Linked DNA regions of Homo sapiens: region 2 is linked to region 1. The links come from fine-mapping of genetic effects on gene expression. Tissue or cell type: blood mononuclear cells. Region 1 holds a variant in brackets; the other region holds the start of a gene. All regions are shown on one strand. Distances are between the middles of the regions.

Region 1 (8,320 bases):
AGTGTGTGTTGTGTGTGAGCAAGTCTGTGTGTATGAGTGTGTCTTGTGTGAGTGTGTGTGTGCCTGTGTGTATGAGTGTATGTGTGTGTCTGTGTGTGTGTGCACCTTCTCCCTAGCAAGAGCACCCATAGGTTACATCAGATTCTCAAAGGGATCTGTGTCCTCAAAAGGCTCAGAAGCACTAAGATCCTTTTCAGCTCTGGGGTCTCTGATTCTACATAACAAGAAAGAGAGGAAGAGGAGGTCATCCAACCCATGGGGGAGGGAGTCAGACCAGATCCTAGAACTTCCAAAAGGGTTGCAGGCCCCACAACAGGAATGCAGGGGAGGCTGCAGGACCAGGCCCCAGGAGAACGTCTAACCTCAGTAGTTCTCCGGGCTGAAAGAAGCAGAGCCCAGAAGAGCTGACTGCAGAAACGGAAGAGGCAACAGCAGCCAGGAGTCTCCTCCCCACTGCTCCCGCCCCATCCACAAGCACCCACTTGTCCTGGGATACAGCAGAGAGCAAGGAGGCACGACTGGCACCCGGAGATGCCCGCCAGGCCCCTTGGCACCCAGAAGGCTTGGCTGGAGGACTCAGGAGGGTGCCAAGCCCCAACCTCTTGCTCCTGAGGCTGACATGTGGGACCATAGGAGGGCTCAGGGTGTAGGGCAGTTGTGGGACCTAGAGAGGCCACCTGGGAGGGGCAGGGCCCACAGCTGCAGGCACTGACAACCCAGAGCTGGACTTGGAGGCTTAAGAGCCAAGGCATGCACCCTCTCAAAGCCAAGGGGAGGAGCAGGAGCCAAATGCTGGCCAGGGGAGAAAGAGGAGTGGGCAATGGGGCCTGGGGGACAAGGCAGTCCAGGAGAAGGAGGAGGACAGCCTGCTTGTGGAGGAGGAGGCAGCATGACAGGGGAAGGGGGCGATGTGGCCTGGGTAGGAGAGGGCTGTGCTGAGGGGACAGGAGAATAGCGAGGCTGGGTGTGGACACAGGCAGCAGGAGCTCAGGCTGTGGTCAAAGAGAGATGCTGGGCCTACGGCAGGGCCTGGGGCAGGAATGGGGGGTGTGTCTGCAGCAGGACTGGCAGTGGGTGCGCCCTGGCAGGCAGCCCAGATGTCTGGGTAGCCACTGACTCTTGGCTTTTGAGGGGATCAGCACCCAGGAGATGTTTATCTGCCCCAAGAACGAGGGTATCACCCCTCCTCTAGTGAGGCCCCAGGTGATGGGTGCAGGCTGCTCTTCCCTAAACCCCTGAAGGGGGGAGCCCCGAGCAGCAGCAACCCTCACTGGAGCCAGAGTCAGGGCACAGCAGCTGGGATGGAGCTTGATCCCCACAGACAGAGGAGGGAGGGAGTCACAGGCGAGCTCCAGGCTCTCTCCAGAGGCCGCTTAGAAACCAGCTCATCTGATGCAGACACTCGTCCCCATCCCTCTCCCTGCCACTGTCACACACCGGCACACACACCCTCCCCTCTTTCTCCCCTTGATCATCCACCTCCAGAGCCCCGGCTCCTCCCTCCATCACAGCCCCACTCCCTGTCCCTGTCCCTGCCCACCTTTACCTGGCCCAACAGGCACCTGCCCCATGTCAAAGCTGGCTGTGTGGGAGGTGGGGAGGCAGGGACACAGGGTGAAGAAAGAAGACCCACCAACAGCGAGTCCTGAGGTCACAGGGACCTAGAGAGGAGTTACCCATCCCTGGTGACCCCAAACACCTCCTCCTACTCTCCCAGGAAGAAACCAGCACCACACCTATCCCAGGCCTGATGGTTCCCTGGCAGACTCCTCCAGAGCAGACACCTGCCTCCCAGCTCAGACCTGTCCCCACTGCCAGGTCAGCTCCCCACTTGCTAGTCTCTGAGACTTACCCAGCACAGAGAAGGCAGGGGTGAGAGGCCAGCCTGTCCCCACCATCCTGGGGAAGTCCTTGCTCCAGTGGGGCCCCCACCCTCCTAACTCCAGAGTCCTCCTAAATGAAGGGACACTGCCAGAGCTGCCCCTTGGTCCAGCTCGAGGAAGATTAACTCTTTCCCTACCTTGCCCCAGCACTCCAGGCCTGCCCCTCCTGGGTGACTCCTAAACCAACCTCACCCAACCTATTTGCCCTTCTAGGGGTCAGGTCCTATATCACCCTCCTCCCAAGGGCACAAGAGACCCAGGGGAGCCCTCTACCCAACTGGAGGCCCCTTCACCCGGTCGTGGTCCTTCCTCCCCCTTGGTCCACCTGCCTTGCCGCACTTCCCAAGCAGACTAGCACCGTCCTGGGCTGGCTACTTAACCTGTGTCAGGTGCCCTGGGCTCTGCCAACCGCCAGCTCCCGACTCGGGGCGTCGTCCCTCACCCATTCCCGCAGCCCCTACCTGAAGCGGTAGCTGCCTTCTCTCTGCACAGGCCAAACCCCCGGACTCCCAGCACTCAGCCCGCGCCGAGACCCAGGGACTCCCCGGGGGCTGGGGACCGCAGAGTGGTCCGGGCCGCAGCTCTTCGCAGCACACCAGGCTCACAGTGCAGCCCATCCGGCCTGGCGCCCCGGCGGGCAGGGGCGGAGACGCGGGAGCCCCAGAAGCCGGCCCGCCCCCAGCCCTTGCGACAGCTCAGCCCAGAGCGCCTGCGACATTGGCAGGCGAGCAGCAACGACCCCAGCCTGGCCCCGACAGAGTCCCTGCCTTTATGTCCAGCAGCGACAGGAGCCCCCACTGTGGGGCCTGATAAGGGTCTGCAATACAGGTCCCGAACACAGCCAGTGAGGAAGCCCACCTCAGGGAGGGGAGAAGGGAGGGCGGCAGTGGTGGAGTCCTTGGGACAGGGACTTCAGACAGTCTGACTTGGGGGGCAAGGTGAGAAACACACCAAGAACGTGACAGAGGGACAGGGAGAAGATAAAGGCAGACAATGAGGAAGAGGCAGAGATGAGGGACAGAGATGGGGGAAGCAGCCTCCGCATGGGGGATATAGGTGCAGGACGGAGCCGAGGATAGAAACCCTCGGGCATCCGTTGTGCTGGTTTTTAGATGCGGTTCCTGGGGTTTGTGAAAACAGCCGTCCTCCCAGGCCCCTGCTCCACTTCCCTAATACTAGCCCCTGGAGCAGCCGAGCCTGGAGAAACGAGGACCCGGCATGGAAAGACCCCAGGCTCAAGGAGGCAGAGCACAGCCAGGGTGGGGGACCCCAGCCCACCGGGGAAACCCGCCCGGCCCATTGCTGCGCACAGGATCTCACTGGTGGTCTCACATCCATCCTTTTGGGAATGGGATCAGGCCTGGGGGGTCGGCACTGATGACCAGCACTCAGGGGGACCGCCTCAGCTGACTGAGGTGGAGACAGGAAGGAGGAGCGTGGTGGGGCCCTCGACCTCCCCTCCCCACTCTGGAGCGCTGCCTCACAGCCCAACCAAGCGACACGGAAGAGACAACCACAGGAATAGCAGCTGCGGAGCTCCATGGCCTCCCT[G/C]TGCCCCCTGGTGGCGAGAAGGAAGAAAAGCAAGAGCAGGTGCTGAAAACGAAAAGGAAACTAGCAGCAGTCCCAGCTACCACAATGGATCAGCCCCCATTTGGCCAACAGGTGACTCTACCCCAGGTGGGCCTGAGAGGACCCATCCCCCATCTCACCATTCTGCCCCAGCGCCCTGGATCCTGCCTCTACCACTTCTTCCCTGCGCAGTCACTAGGGACGGACTCTGGCAGCAGAGCCGCGCTGTCGTGCCCCAGCCAGCCAGGCTCTCCTGGGTGAGTAGCAGGGAGACCCCTGGAACTTACGGGGATAGAAGGAGTGTGATGCCAGGAGCCAGGGGAGGAAAATGCCTGGCAGAGACGAGGGAGAGGAGGAGACACATGGAGCCGTTCATGGATTTCACACAGGATCTGGGCTGGAAGGGGCTGCCGAGACCATCAGTCCAATCTTTGGTCTACAGGTGGGGAAACTGAGGCTCAAGGAAGGTGAGTGATTTGCCCGAGATCACACAGTGAGTGTGTAGCCAGGCCAGGATGGAGACCCAGGTCTCTGGGCTCCTGACCCCGTCCTCCCTGAATCCCATGCCCCAGCCACCTCCCTCATTTACCTCCGTTTCCCTCTCCCCTTCCCTCCACTGTGTCCCACTGCTGTACCACTGCCACGCCACCCCAAACTCCAGCAGCCACAGCCCGGGAGGCAGGACACCTGGGTTTTCCGCTCCATGCCTGGTCTTGACTCTAGGATCTCAGAATAAGGCCACCTGCTCTCAGGGCCACAGTGTCCCCGTCTGGGCCCCAGGATCCATTGGGAGGAGAAGAGGATGAGATCCCCCAGGAGAGAGGCAGTATTAAAACCAGGCACCCTGCTCCCCCCACACACGCAGCATCTGCTCAGCTCCAGCCTTGGGGCCGCGCTTTACTTCTGCAACCTCTCCTCAAAGAACACACATTTCCATTCAGCTGGGGCCCAGGAAAAGATGAGTGGGTGTCTCGAGGAGGATGAGTACCCGGGTGAGGCTGGGGGCCCTCCATGGGGAACATGGGGACACTCCCAGCCTAGTGTCCACATGGCATGAACCCTCACGGGGCTGCTCACACCAAGTCAGGGCCCAGAACACAGGCCCTGTGGGCACACACACCTGAGTTCAAATCCTGGGAACCTCTGTGATGCTGGATAAAAGACTTACCCTCTCTGTGCCCCAGGTTCCCCTCTAGCCTCCCAGGGTTATGTGGGGATTGAATGGGACAAAGATATTAAACAATTAGCACAGTGTCGTCGCCCAGGGACTGCTCAATCGGTGGAGGCCACACCATCATCTTCACACCCTGGCCTACAAAATAGAGCTGGGATTTTCCCTTGCTGTGTGGCCAGATATAAGTCTTTCCCTCTCTGGACTTTACACAAAGGAGGCTCTGCATCCTCCTTTGTGTAAGGAGAGAGTTGGGCAGTGAGACTCAGGGTTCTTCCTGGGCTCACAGTCCAAGTCACAAGGAATCACATTATCTAGCATCCTACGACTGGGTTAAATTAAAACAGGGGGTGAGAACGAGTGAGTCTAGAAGTCTAACTCTATAAAAGGGACCACAGTTCCAATTTGAACCAACAGTTGAGTTAAGGATGCTGCTAAAGTCAGCCACTGGGTGGCCTAACGGATCTCTTAGATGACGTAAAACTTTGGGTTTGATGTGACAGAACCAACACTCCCTCAAGTTACCCACAGAAGCTACTGGCTGTGAAATCCTAATTACAGCATAATGCTGCCAAGTGAAAGGGGTAGACATAAGCAAGGAGAAATTAAGAGAGGTAAGAGATTCACCACGATGAGGAGTCTTCTTCAGTGTTTTGGGGAAAGCTGTCCACAGCGTGAAGTCATCAACTTCTCACTCTGGTTTGCAGTTTAAATATCTCTGGTTATGGCATCAGGTATTTTGGTGAAACTCTGTGTGGCACGCACATCAGGCATGAAGGTTTTCCCTTGAAATGTACACTAAGTTGCCCAGCTCCAGCTTATAAGGCTTCAGGAACAGAGCAGTTCTTGTTCTTTGTAATTCCATGGGAGAAAATTGGATTGGAGGAATCTAGAAGGAATCAAGATCCAGTCCAGTCTACAGGTAGATAATAAACTGAGGCTGGGTGCAGTGGCTCAAGCCTGTAATCCCAGCACTTTGGGAGGCTGAGGCGGGCGGATCACTTGAGGTCAGGAGTTCGAGACCAGCCTGACCAACATAGTGAAACCCCATCTCTACTAAAAATACAAAAAATTAGCCGGGCGTGGTGGCAGGCGCCTGTAACCTCAGCTACTTGGGAGGCTGAGGCAGAAGAATCCCTTGAACCCAGGAGGCGGAGGTTGCAGTGAGTGGAGATAGCACCACTGCACTCCAGCCTGGGCAATAGTGCAAAACTCAGTCTCAAAAAAAAAAAAGATAATAAACTGAAAAACAATGAGCAGGGCTACAATCTAATAACAGGCACACTATAATTTTTCTTCCGAAACATAATTTTTCTCTCTACATTCACTCTCATTTCTACCAAAGATAATCAAAGTAAGACTAATTTGTTTGCAAAATAAGTTTAGCCTCATCAAACACAGCCTGACTAATTAAATAAATGCAGCAAACATAGCAATTGACCACAGAGGTTTTCTTTTAAAGCTTGCTTTGTTGGAACTTTTGATAGGAAATCTCAAATTGGATTTTTTAAAACCTCTTGAGGCTAGAAAGCCAAACCAAGGCAGACTTCAGACTTCACCAGCAATACCTATAGATTCCTTCTCTGGACATTTTCAAATATGACATCCCAGTCAATGCCCTAGTAATATACCCAATACTGTCAATATATCCTGTTATAAAGAGAACCGATTCCTATAGAACAGAAGCAAATCACTATATTACCATACCAACAAGAATACTCACAAATAGTTTCTGAATTCTGGAAGGATCCTATGTGGAGAAAAAGTAAGTGTTTCCACTTTTGTTCACAAAAGTACATTTGGCCAAATTTCTGTAATCTATAGATAGTTTAAAAGAAAAAAACAGTTTCCTAAACTATGGCAAACAAAATATTTAAAGAACCAGCAAAGTTTCAAATAAAAATTCATAAAAAACATTATCCTCCTCAGTTCATTTAACCTCATGTAATTACTTTGTTCTTCTTGATCTTGGTTAAGTTTCATGATAGCGTCAGTCTCTTCCTTAGAGTTATGGAAATTCTTACCCAGTCCAATGGTATGATCTTAAAGTTATCAAAAACCTTTCCATGAAAGTTATCAGAGTCCTTTCCATGAATCTCCTTGAACACATAACACCTTAGAATTACAGCTGCTTGAATAAAAAAAAAAGTTTTCAGAAAAACACCAGAAAAAAAAGCAATTATTTGTGGACAATATGTCTTGAAATGGCCATAGTTAAACATCTTATTTGTGTTTATTATGATGATGCAACTAAGAAGGAAATTTGGGCATCAGAGACATAGACAGAGCTGAGTTTGCTTTTGCAAAGTGCTCCATCAGTAAAAATGCACAGTTTTGGGTGATTCATGGTGAATCTGTTTTCATTTTAATCATTACATATTCATTTTAAATTAAATTAACAAAAGTGAATTGATTTAAAGAATATTACACTTCAGCAGACATGGCCAAAATGTGAAAGGTGGTTTAGAGATGATGGAAGTTTGGAAGACCCCAAATTAGATGATCATGTTATCAGTGAAGAGTGCCCTCAGCGGCTAGTAACAAAAATCTGACTCCCAGTGGCTTAAAAACATAGCGGGTGAGGGGTTTTTGGTGGTATTATTTTACACATAACATTTGCTAATGTTGGTTGGGGGCTCAGTAACTTCCAAGGCTGACTACCCTCTTTCCGATTCATTTGCCCTTTTCCTCATGGCCCCATGATGGTTGCTGCAGCTCTAGCAGTCACAAGCAAAAGGAAAGAAAAGGGAGAGAGGGTGCCAAGCAGTGTCTTTCTTTCTCTTTGGTAGGAAAAGCGAGGGCTTTCCCAGAGCTTGCAGCAGTCTTCTCCTTGACCTTCATTAGCAAAAATCATATCCTTGGCCACCACTAGGTGTAAAGAAGTCTGGGAGAGTGGGCAATCGGTTGCATAACTGGTTTAGACCATCCTCATCCAATGGAGGTTCTATCGGTGAGTAAGGAAGGGGCATCACAGCAAGATAAACCAACATCGGTAAAAGCAAACTGAGAGTGGCTACTGTCTCTTTAAACTTCCTGTCACTATTTATACATGAAAAGAGAACCCAGCAGGAGAGTATGATCTACCTTTAAAAATAGGCTTGCCAGTGGCAGAATTGTAGGCATCTGTGGCATGATAAATTTGACATTTGTGGTAGGGCAAGATTTACACTACCATTAGAGGATGGTTGGGAAGGAACAATGGCAGGCAGACCAGGTGGGCTGTGTGTTCGGGCATACCTGTGGTATGAGTGTGTGACCAAAAGCAATAGACAATGAATTGTGGTGGTGACACATGGTCCATGAATCACAGTAGAAATGTCTCCCATTATTTATTTCCACAACCGTTGATTGAGCACTTACTATAGTCCCTGAAAGAGAACACAAAGATGAATGGAAGAGGATTCTTGCTCACAGGCTGGGGGAGGGTGGACTTGTAAACACATCACTGCAGTATAGTAGGGTTCATGTTATAATGGAGAATTGATGAAGGTGCCAGAAGACTCAAGCCAGGGAACAGACATTAGCTGCTGGGGGAAGCTAAGGCAGGTTCCCAGAGAAGCCGTTCTCCATTACTGAGATGGGGGGAGCAGTGACCTTGACCCCAGCTCTTCCATTCATGGACTGCCCCAGCTCTATGGTCTCTCTGCTAACCATCCAGACTCTGGGAGTGGCCTATGCCCCCAGCCTCAGAGCCATT
Region 2 (8,000 bases), 33 kb before region 1:
CCTTTCCTCCATGGCCCTGGGCCTTGCTCTGTCGCCTGGGCTGGAGTGCAGTGGTGTAATCATAGCTCGCTATAGCCTTGACCTCCAGGGCTCAAGTGATCCTTCCACCTCAGCCTCCAAGTAGCTGGGACTACCAGCGCATACCACCATGCCCAGATAACTTATTTATTTTTCGTACAGACATGGTCTTACTATGTTGCTCGGGCCAGTCTTGAACTTCTAGGCTCAGGAAATCCTCCCTCCTTGGCCTCCCAAAGTGCTGGGATCACAGGTGTGACCACTGTGCCTGGCCAGATTCATCTTTAGATCTAGTTTAAAATTCACCTCCCGAGGAGTCTTTCCTGACACCTTCTCCCTACAGTCCAGGTTAGGTCCCCCTTACATCCCCCAGAGGTTCCCTCTTGGTAACACCCATCCTGCTTGCAATCATGTGCCAGTATGTGCAAGCAGCTTGAAGAGAGCAGGCCCTCCATAATAATCCGTGAAAAGGATGGAAAGCTGCGTGGGGGGTGTGGTTAGAAAGCCAAATGATGGGATGCTTCTTCCATCACACGACCTCCCCAACACCATGCCCTGACCCTGGGCTGCCCGCCACAGTCCTCTTCGCTGACTTAGGGCTCATGCGTCATTCTCAGGGCTTGATTCCCACGGACCCCACATGTCCTGCCCCAAAGCATTCCCAGAATGGAGAAGCCTGGCAGAGGATGCAGCAGATGGGGTTGGAGTCTTGACTCTGACTTGCTGGGTAGCCTTGAAAATGTGCCATCCTACAAGAAGCACTAACATTTCTTGAGCTCTTACATGTGAGAGACACTTTTCTAAATGTATGTGTGGATTAGCTCATTCAAAACCGAACAACCCTATAGGTAGGTGGGGAAACCAAAGCACAGAGATGTGAAACTACTTGCCTATGGTCACACAGCTGTCAAGTGACAGGCCCGGGATCCAGCCCAGGCATTGCACTCTCGGCCAGCATGCTACACTTCCTTTCAACACTGCAGAATAAAAGGGCAGTGCTCTTCCCAATTTTGTGCCTCACACATTACTTTGCAAAACTTTGCAAAAGGAGAGTCTTATTTCAGACCCTGGTGATTCTCATGCAGCCCAGCCTACCTCCCAAACCCACAGTCAGGAGGCCCTTACAGGTCAACCAAACTAGAGAGAACGAGTTCAGGACCAAAGAGTCAGATTGATGTCTGCATGACCGGAATTGTGCACAAGGAATCCAGAGCTCATGAGGACCCTTCTGTCAAAAATGTGTGCTTAGCACTGGGCAGGACACCAACTCCAGGAAACAAAATACATCATCGTCTGCAGCTGGATGTGGCCTTAGAGAATAGAGCCCACATTTCAGTGAGGTCCAGAAAAGTCGAGTGACCAGCTTGAGACCACTTAGCTGGCTCAGGGCAGAGCCAAAGCTGCACTTGACCCCCAGCCCCTGCCTGGTGGCTCTTTCAGCCTCACCCTGAGCCCCTTCCCAGTTCCTGAGGACCAGTGAGTCCCTCTGGAAGGAAGGGCCTCCACCTCTAACTCCTCCAGCACAACATCAAAAAGCCTCAATTGCTAGGCATGCAATTATTTTCTAAATAAACCGTACTTGAATATGTAATAGCAAATGGGAGCACTTGATGAGAAAATCAAGTTATGCATAATAAATAGCTCTGCTCCTCAGCTAATAAAGTGATTTTTATTCCTAGGACTTGTTAAAACTATGCACTACAGATATATTACTTCTTAGATGACACAATTGCAGCTTTCCCCATACAGGAACATGTGAACCAATAGATGCAAGCACTCACTCTAGGGCACAAGAACTATCTCAGTCACTTCCTGGCCTCAGAGTAGCTGGTCAGAGTCCCTGGGCAGTCAGCCCAGGAGTAGAGCCCAAGGAGTAGAGCCCTGTCCCATGACACCATTCCCAGGGAGATCCTCCCCCAGCATCAGGTCTGGGATACAGAGGATCCCAAGAACCAGGCAGGAGACTGTGGAGTGGGAAAGGGGCCAGCATTTGCTGAGCACCTACTGCATGCCTACATACCTGATCTTTTGATATCTATTGTCTCTTTCCCCACCCTAGCCATACAAGGAGTATATTATTCTCTGCACTTTACAGATCAAGAAATTGAGGCTCATGAAGGGAACTGCTTTACCAAGCCTGCCCATACCAAACGATGGAAATAGGGTTTGAGCCTAGTCCTATCTGGTGCCAGGACTGCTTCCTCTGTCCAGTCCCTACTGCCCCAGTCTCTGGCCCATCCTGGCCATGGGCATCACAGCCAGCCTAGAAAGGATGGGGACTAGGAGAGGAGAGGAAAAGGAGACAGGGGAGGGACACAGGCTTTTCTAGTCTTAAAGACACTCAAGGCCAGGCGCAGTGGCTCACACCTATAATCCCAGCACTTTGGGAGGCTGAGACGGGAGGATCACTTGAGGTCAGGAGTTCGAGGCCAGCCTGGCCAACACGATGAAACCCCATCTCTACTAAAAATATAAAAAATTAGCTGGACATGTTGGCACGCACTTGTAGTCCCAGCTACTCGGGAGGCTGAGGCAGGAGAATTGCTTGGACCCAGGAGGTAGAGGTTATAGTGAGCCAAGATCATGCCATTGCACTCCAGCCTGGGTGACAGAGTGAGACTCCATCTCAATTAAAAAAAAAATGAATAAATAAAAATAAAGACACTCAAGGAAGCAGCACTCACAGCTGCCTTGGTCCCCAGACTCTTCCCCTTACTCTCAGGGAGGGTATAACACCCATAGGGCACTCTACCTGCCAGGCACTGCCCTGGGGAATTGGATACAAAATTTCATCCCTACCTCTCTGTACCCTGTTTCTCTGCAATCCTCATTTCACCAACGGGAAAGCAGAGGCTCACCAGGATGAGGCACTTTTCCCAGTATCAGTCAGCTGAAGGGATCTATAGAGCCCTCTCTCCAGTCACAGCAGCTCGTCACCCCTGGAGGTCTACCTGCCATCCTTCTTGTGTCACCCCTGGACGTCTACCTGCCATCCTTCTTGCTGCAGAGCTCCCTCCTGCCTACCTCTGTCCTCAGCACAGAGACGAACCTGGCCAAGGCTCCCATTTCCCAGATGTCAACACCAGCCCAGTAAACCACAAATGCATCCTGTGTGCAGGCCTCCCCAGTCACTCTCAATCTATTAATCCAATCCATCCCAGCACCCCAGCCCAACATGCCACCCAAACCGCCTCATTCCAGGCCCCCTCCCCCACCCTTTCTTTCTTTGCCCAGAGGACACCTGGCTGCCCGAGTTTGTGTTCCCACAACTGCCCCCAGCATGGGCTTGCCTGGGCCAAGAGGGCCCTCCCGAGGACTGGCCAGAACAAGGAAAGGGACAGGAAAGGCCACATCTGGATCACAGCCCTGAAGCCCCCTCCCCCAAACCAGCCATCACTCTCTCAGAGCCCAACAGTAACCTCAGCCAGGGACGACTTCCTCACCCTCCTGACCCCATGCATGCCTTTGCCTGGCCAAGACAGCCCCACAGGAGCCCCTCTGAGGAAGGGGTCCTCTCCTCCTCTGACCCCCAGCCCTTCTGCAGCAGGCAGCCCTCTCCCATCCCCCTTTACCCAGGAGCCTCAGCCCAGGTCTGGCCTTAAGACTTTTAACCTTCACCACGTGGCCCCCAGGCCTCTCTGCTGGCCCCCCTGGCATCCCCATCCTGAAACCCACCTCCCTGAACCTGGAGCCAAGAGAGAAAGGGGGAAGAGCGGGCCATGGCTCCCTCCTCCAGGATGGAGAGGTCTTGGTAGCAGGGGAGGGCTGTGGAGGAAGGGATGGCAGTGGGTGGAAGCTGAAACTGGGTGTAGAAGGAATAAAAGGGATGGACTCTGAGAATTCTCCCACAGCCCAGCTCTTCCAGACTTAATATTTTGGACTACTATTCTTTGCTCCCCAGCCCCACCACTGCCTCCTCCTCAAGATCTTGGGCTCAGCAACTGAGGGGGGGCGGTGAAGAATTTTCACCCCATTGTAGGATGCAAGTCGGGAGGAAAGGCTCTAAAGAGAAGCAAACTTCTCTGTGGCCTCCTTCCACTTACAGCTCTGGGACTCCATTGGGGGGTGGGGGGGTGGGGCAGGGGATGTACTGACCCGGGACCCTGGGCCTGGGCCCTGTTGGTGGGGAAAGTCTTCCGGCTGAGGGTTGCTCAAGTCAGTCTGTCCTTCTGTAGGTCAGAGACAGAAAGGCCCCTCCTTCAAGACTGACACCCCCCGACCCCGGGCTCTCAGCAAAAGGATAAGGTGGCAGGGGCCGGTGGGGGGCGGGGGGTTTGAGGAAGAGTAACGTCGCAGCTAAAGCAGCCAGACCTACCCAGAGCATGCAGGACAGACAGATCCACGTCATCTTTGCTGGGTCCCGTCACTGAGGCACGCCCAGGGCCTGTGAAGAGCCCCTGAAGCTAGAGTCCCCGCGGCGCTGGCAGAAGGGCTCTCTGAGTCCGCGGCTGCTCCGGCTCCGCCAGCATCTGCTGGGCCTCTCGCCCTGCTGCCTCCAGCTCACCCTCCCTCCTCCTCCTCCTCCCCCCACTCCACCCCTCGTCCCAGCCTCCTCTCTCCTCCCTCCTCCCAGGCTCCACCGGTGGCCTTGAGGGTCAGGAACCCTGCTTTGCAGGGGGTGTAAAGGGGACAGGGAAAAGGGAAAGCTACCAGAGGCAGGGCCCCCCCAGGCCGTGCCCCCCACCCCCGGACACACAACCCCTGTGTGCCACCAAGGCTCCTCAGTCTTCTGATCTGGTGCTGGTAGGCCTGGAGTCCTCCCTCCTCACTGCAGACCCCCGCCCCTGGCAAACCAGCCTGGGGGCCTTCACTCCTGGAACCCTCCAGACCACTGATGGATGAACAGACAGCCCCAGGCCCACACAATCAGCACACTCAGGGTGCCTTGGCCCCTCCCCTTCTCTGAGTACCCGTGCCTGCCTTCCTGGCCTCCTCGGAACACACATGCATTTGCACACACAGACTGGGACAGACTCTGGTGCCCACGCGCCAAGCTCAGAGCCCAGGACAGGCCTTAACACAGAAGAAATAGGGCCCGAGACTGGGGAAGAATGGCCCTGCCCCCAGGCTGTGGGTTTCATTCCAATTTTTTTCCTATTTCTTTTTTTTTCCCCCTTCTTTCTTTCTTTCCTGCAAACATCTGTCCCAGCCTTTCCTGCCCTTCTGAAAGGGAGCCCCGCTCCAGGCTCCCGCGAGAGTGTGTTTTTCTTGACTGTACCCGGGGCCAACATTTGGTTTGCATTTCCCCACTTCCTCCCCCTCCTCCCCTCTCCCCCTCCCTGGGCCCAGTTCTCCCCTCCCACCATTCCACAGGCCTATTTCTTCCCCTCAGTGTCCCCTGCCCACCAGCCCTCCCCTCCCCTCGCCCCCACCTCTGCCCAGGGACAATTGTTGGGGGTCTAGAGGGTGGAAAGGAGGCTGGGTCAAAACCCAAAAGTATTCCCACGGAGCACTAAGGGGGAATCCAGCAAAGTCTGCCCCAGGCCTTCATTGTCTGGAACCACCACGTTCCCCTCCAAAAAAAACCCTTCCTCTTTGAGCTCTGGCCTTGGCTGGACCAACTGAGGGTGGGTGGGGGCCAGTGAATCACCCGCTCTGTTCTTTGGAGCTGTCCAGGAGAAGGAGGGAGGGCTCAGCCCCACACCCTCCTGTGGACACACACACACACAAGGACACAGTCCAACTCACGTCAACACATAAGAGCCCTCCCAGAGTAGGCACTTGGAGACCTCGTTCCTAGACTGAGTCACTTAGCAAGAAAAGTTCTCTTGCCTGGCCTCCTATGCACACTGTGCTATACATGCCCTGGGGCCACATGCACGAAGGGTTACAGATCCCCTGCCTCCCCCCCCCACTCACCCAAGGCCATGCCATGCCGCTGTCTGTCAGCACCACATACCGTGCAACTACCAGCCTCCTCTTTCACAGGGATCTGCCCAGCCACTTGTGCCAACTCCCAGCCCAGGGACCACCCAAGACATCTACCTGGGAAACCCCAGAATGAAGGGGAAACACTGACTCTTCATCTGAAAAAAAGACTGCAGTATTCAGATACACAGGTTGTCCACAGCACAAGGGACTAACCATCTATTGTTTGGTGGTTCTGAGAAGTCAGGGGAGGACACTGAAGTGAAGTGTCAATTTCCAGCCCTTCCTAAAGCAGGTACCTGAGTGAAGAGTCTTTGTTCCGGTAGAGGAGTCAGGGTCCTCTCTCCATACTTCTCCAAGTCCTCCAGAGCTCTGGGGCTGGGAAAGATCCTGCCTCTAGTGTCCTTCCCTGCCAGGATCACAATGTCCCTCTGGACCCCCTACTCTAAGCCTCCTGGGGCTTCACTGACATTTTAGCCAACGCTGAAATGAACCAGTGTTCCACATGCAGTTGGCCCTGCAGTCACAGCTGGGGATGTCCATAGACAGAAACCTCTGCAAACCCTCCCGTCTCCCCTGGCTGGAGCACCAGGCAAGCAAAGGGGAGTGGTCTTCAGGAGGCCTCTCTGAGAGCCCCTGAGCCCCTCCTCAGCCACTATCACCAGCTCTGCCAGGCTGCCCTTGTCCCCTGACAAGTTCAAGCCTTCAGCCAGCTAAGCCCTGACATCCCAGTGCCCACTCACACCAAGCTCCCCGCTGCCTGCTCCCACAGCCCTTCACTGCTGGCGTCACTGAAGACGCCTCCAGGCAGCTTTCTCTGGAGTTCTGAGAAGTCACCTTGGGGCTTCCCAGAAATGCTGGAAAATCAAACCAAAAACCAAGTCACAGTGACACCAACTTGTCTGGCCTCCTACACAGCCCGAGGAGGCCCTGCTGCTTCCCCAGACTCCTCAGCTAGGACTGTGAATGGAAGTAGGGGACCCTAGTGCTGGGGGTTCCCTTGGAGAAACCCTCCCTCCAGAATACCCCCATCCCTCTTCTCCAAGCCTATGGGGTCTCTCCTGTATATTAATCGCTTATCATCAAGATGTCCTTCCTGCTAATTAACCACCATTTTCCCTGTTGAATGTTAAACTCTGCCGACTGAGGTGTCTCTAACTGTGTGTAATGACCCTGTTCCAGGCTTGTCAGCCTTTATTCCTCCTTCACAGCCTGGTGTCTCCACCCCAACCCACACACGGGCAAGGACGTGTCCTGTGTTTTGTATCCCCAGAGCCTGGCATACAGCAGGCACCAGACATGGTTGAAGAATGACTCAATCACTCAATCAATTAGTCAATGGATCCTAACATATTTTCCTACTGTAAGCATTCACTGCCTCCTTCCCAAACCTTCCTTCTTTTCCCTTCAAAAGGGCCTCAGGCAGCCCTGCCTGTACACTTTTGCCCACAATTTCAGTGCCACCCTATCTGCAGCCACCTCTGCCTGCTGCCAATGCCCCATTCCCAAGCTCTAGCCAGCTGCAGACTCTCCGCAGGCCTGGATGGTTTCATTCATCTTGGGATCCCCACCCTGTGCCCAGACCCCTGTCTCACACACAGCAGACATGGAGTACACACTGGAGGACTGGCTGGGGCTCTACACTGGCATCCCAGAAGCCTCAGAACCCAGCCCCAACCCTGTGCCATCCCCATTTCTGCCTTCCCGCTGCATGCGGAGACCTCCCTCCGCTCATCCCTCCAGCCCCCTGCTCAGCAGCCAGCTGAAGAAACAGAGTCAGGTCTGTGGGCTGTGGTGCTGGCCCTGGGGCTGGAGGAGGGTGGAGCCAAGGCAGAAGGAAGGGTGAGTGTGGTCAGGAATGAGCTAATGGCCTTAGAGCCTGAGCCTGGCAGGCCCCTCCCTGGGCCTCAGTTTCCTTTACCTGTAGAATAACAGGACTGATGGCCTCCAAGGTCCCTTCCAGCTCCACCTTCTGCGATGACACGAGTTTCCCAGGCCAAGGCCCCAGCCCCATCCAATTCACTCTTCCTTTCCTTTGACTCTTGTCCACCAAAATATTCTTACTGATGTCCACCCCTCTCCTACCAGGGCGTTAAGCCTTTCCTTTGTCACCA

The links. PIP is the estimated chance that this variant, and not a neighbour inherited with it, causes the effect.
Region 2: it holds the start of TNS1, and the variant in region 1 is fine-mapped to the expression of TNS1 in blood mononuclear cells (TOPMed, PIP 0.97).

What each region holds. Positions count from the first base shown.
Region 1 is chr2:218,031,476-218,039,795 of GRCh38, forward strand. It overlaps a transcript of TNS1 not described here and a transcript of RUFY4 not described here. Among named protein-coding and RNA genes, the nearest start is that of TNS1, 33 kb to the left of the region's middle. RefSeq lists enhancers at 174-730, 2,849-3,382, 3,383-3,915, 4,771-4,860 and a silencer at 3,709-3,758. The variant G/C (reference allele first, on the strand shown) is at 3,435.
Region 2 is chr2:217,998,507-218,006,506 of GRCh38, forward strand. It overlaps TNS1 (tensin 1), which reads right to left and starts at 4,489. Exons shown (of 33, transcript NM_001387777.1): 1 at 4,334-4,489. The coding sequence starts at 4,366. RefSeq lists enhancers at 2,933-3,433, 3,434-3,934, 5,675-5,774.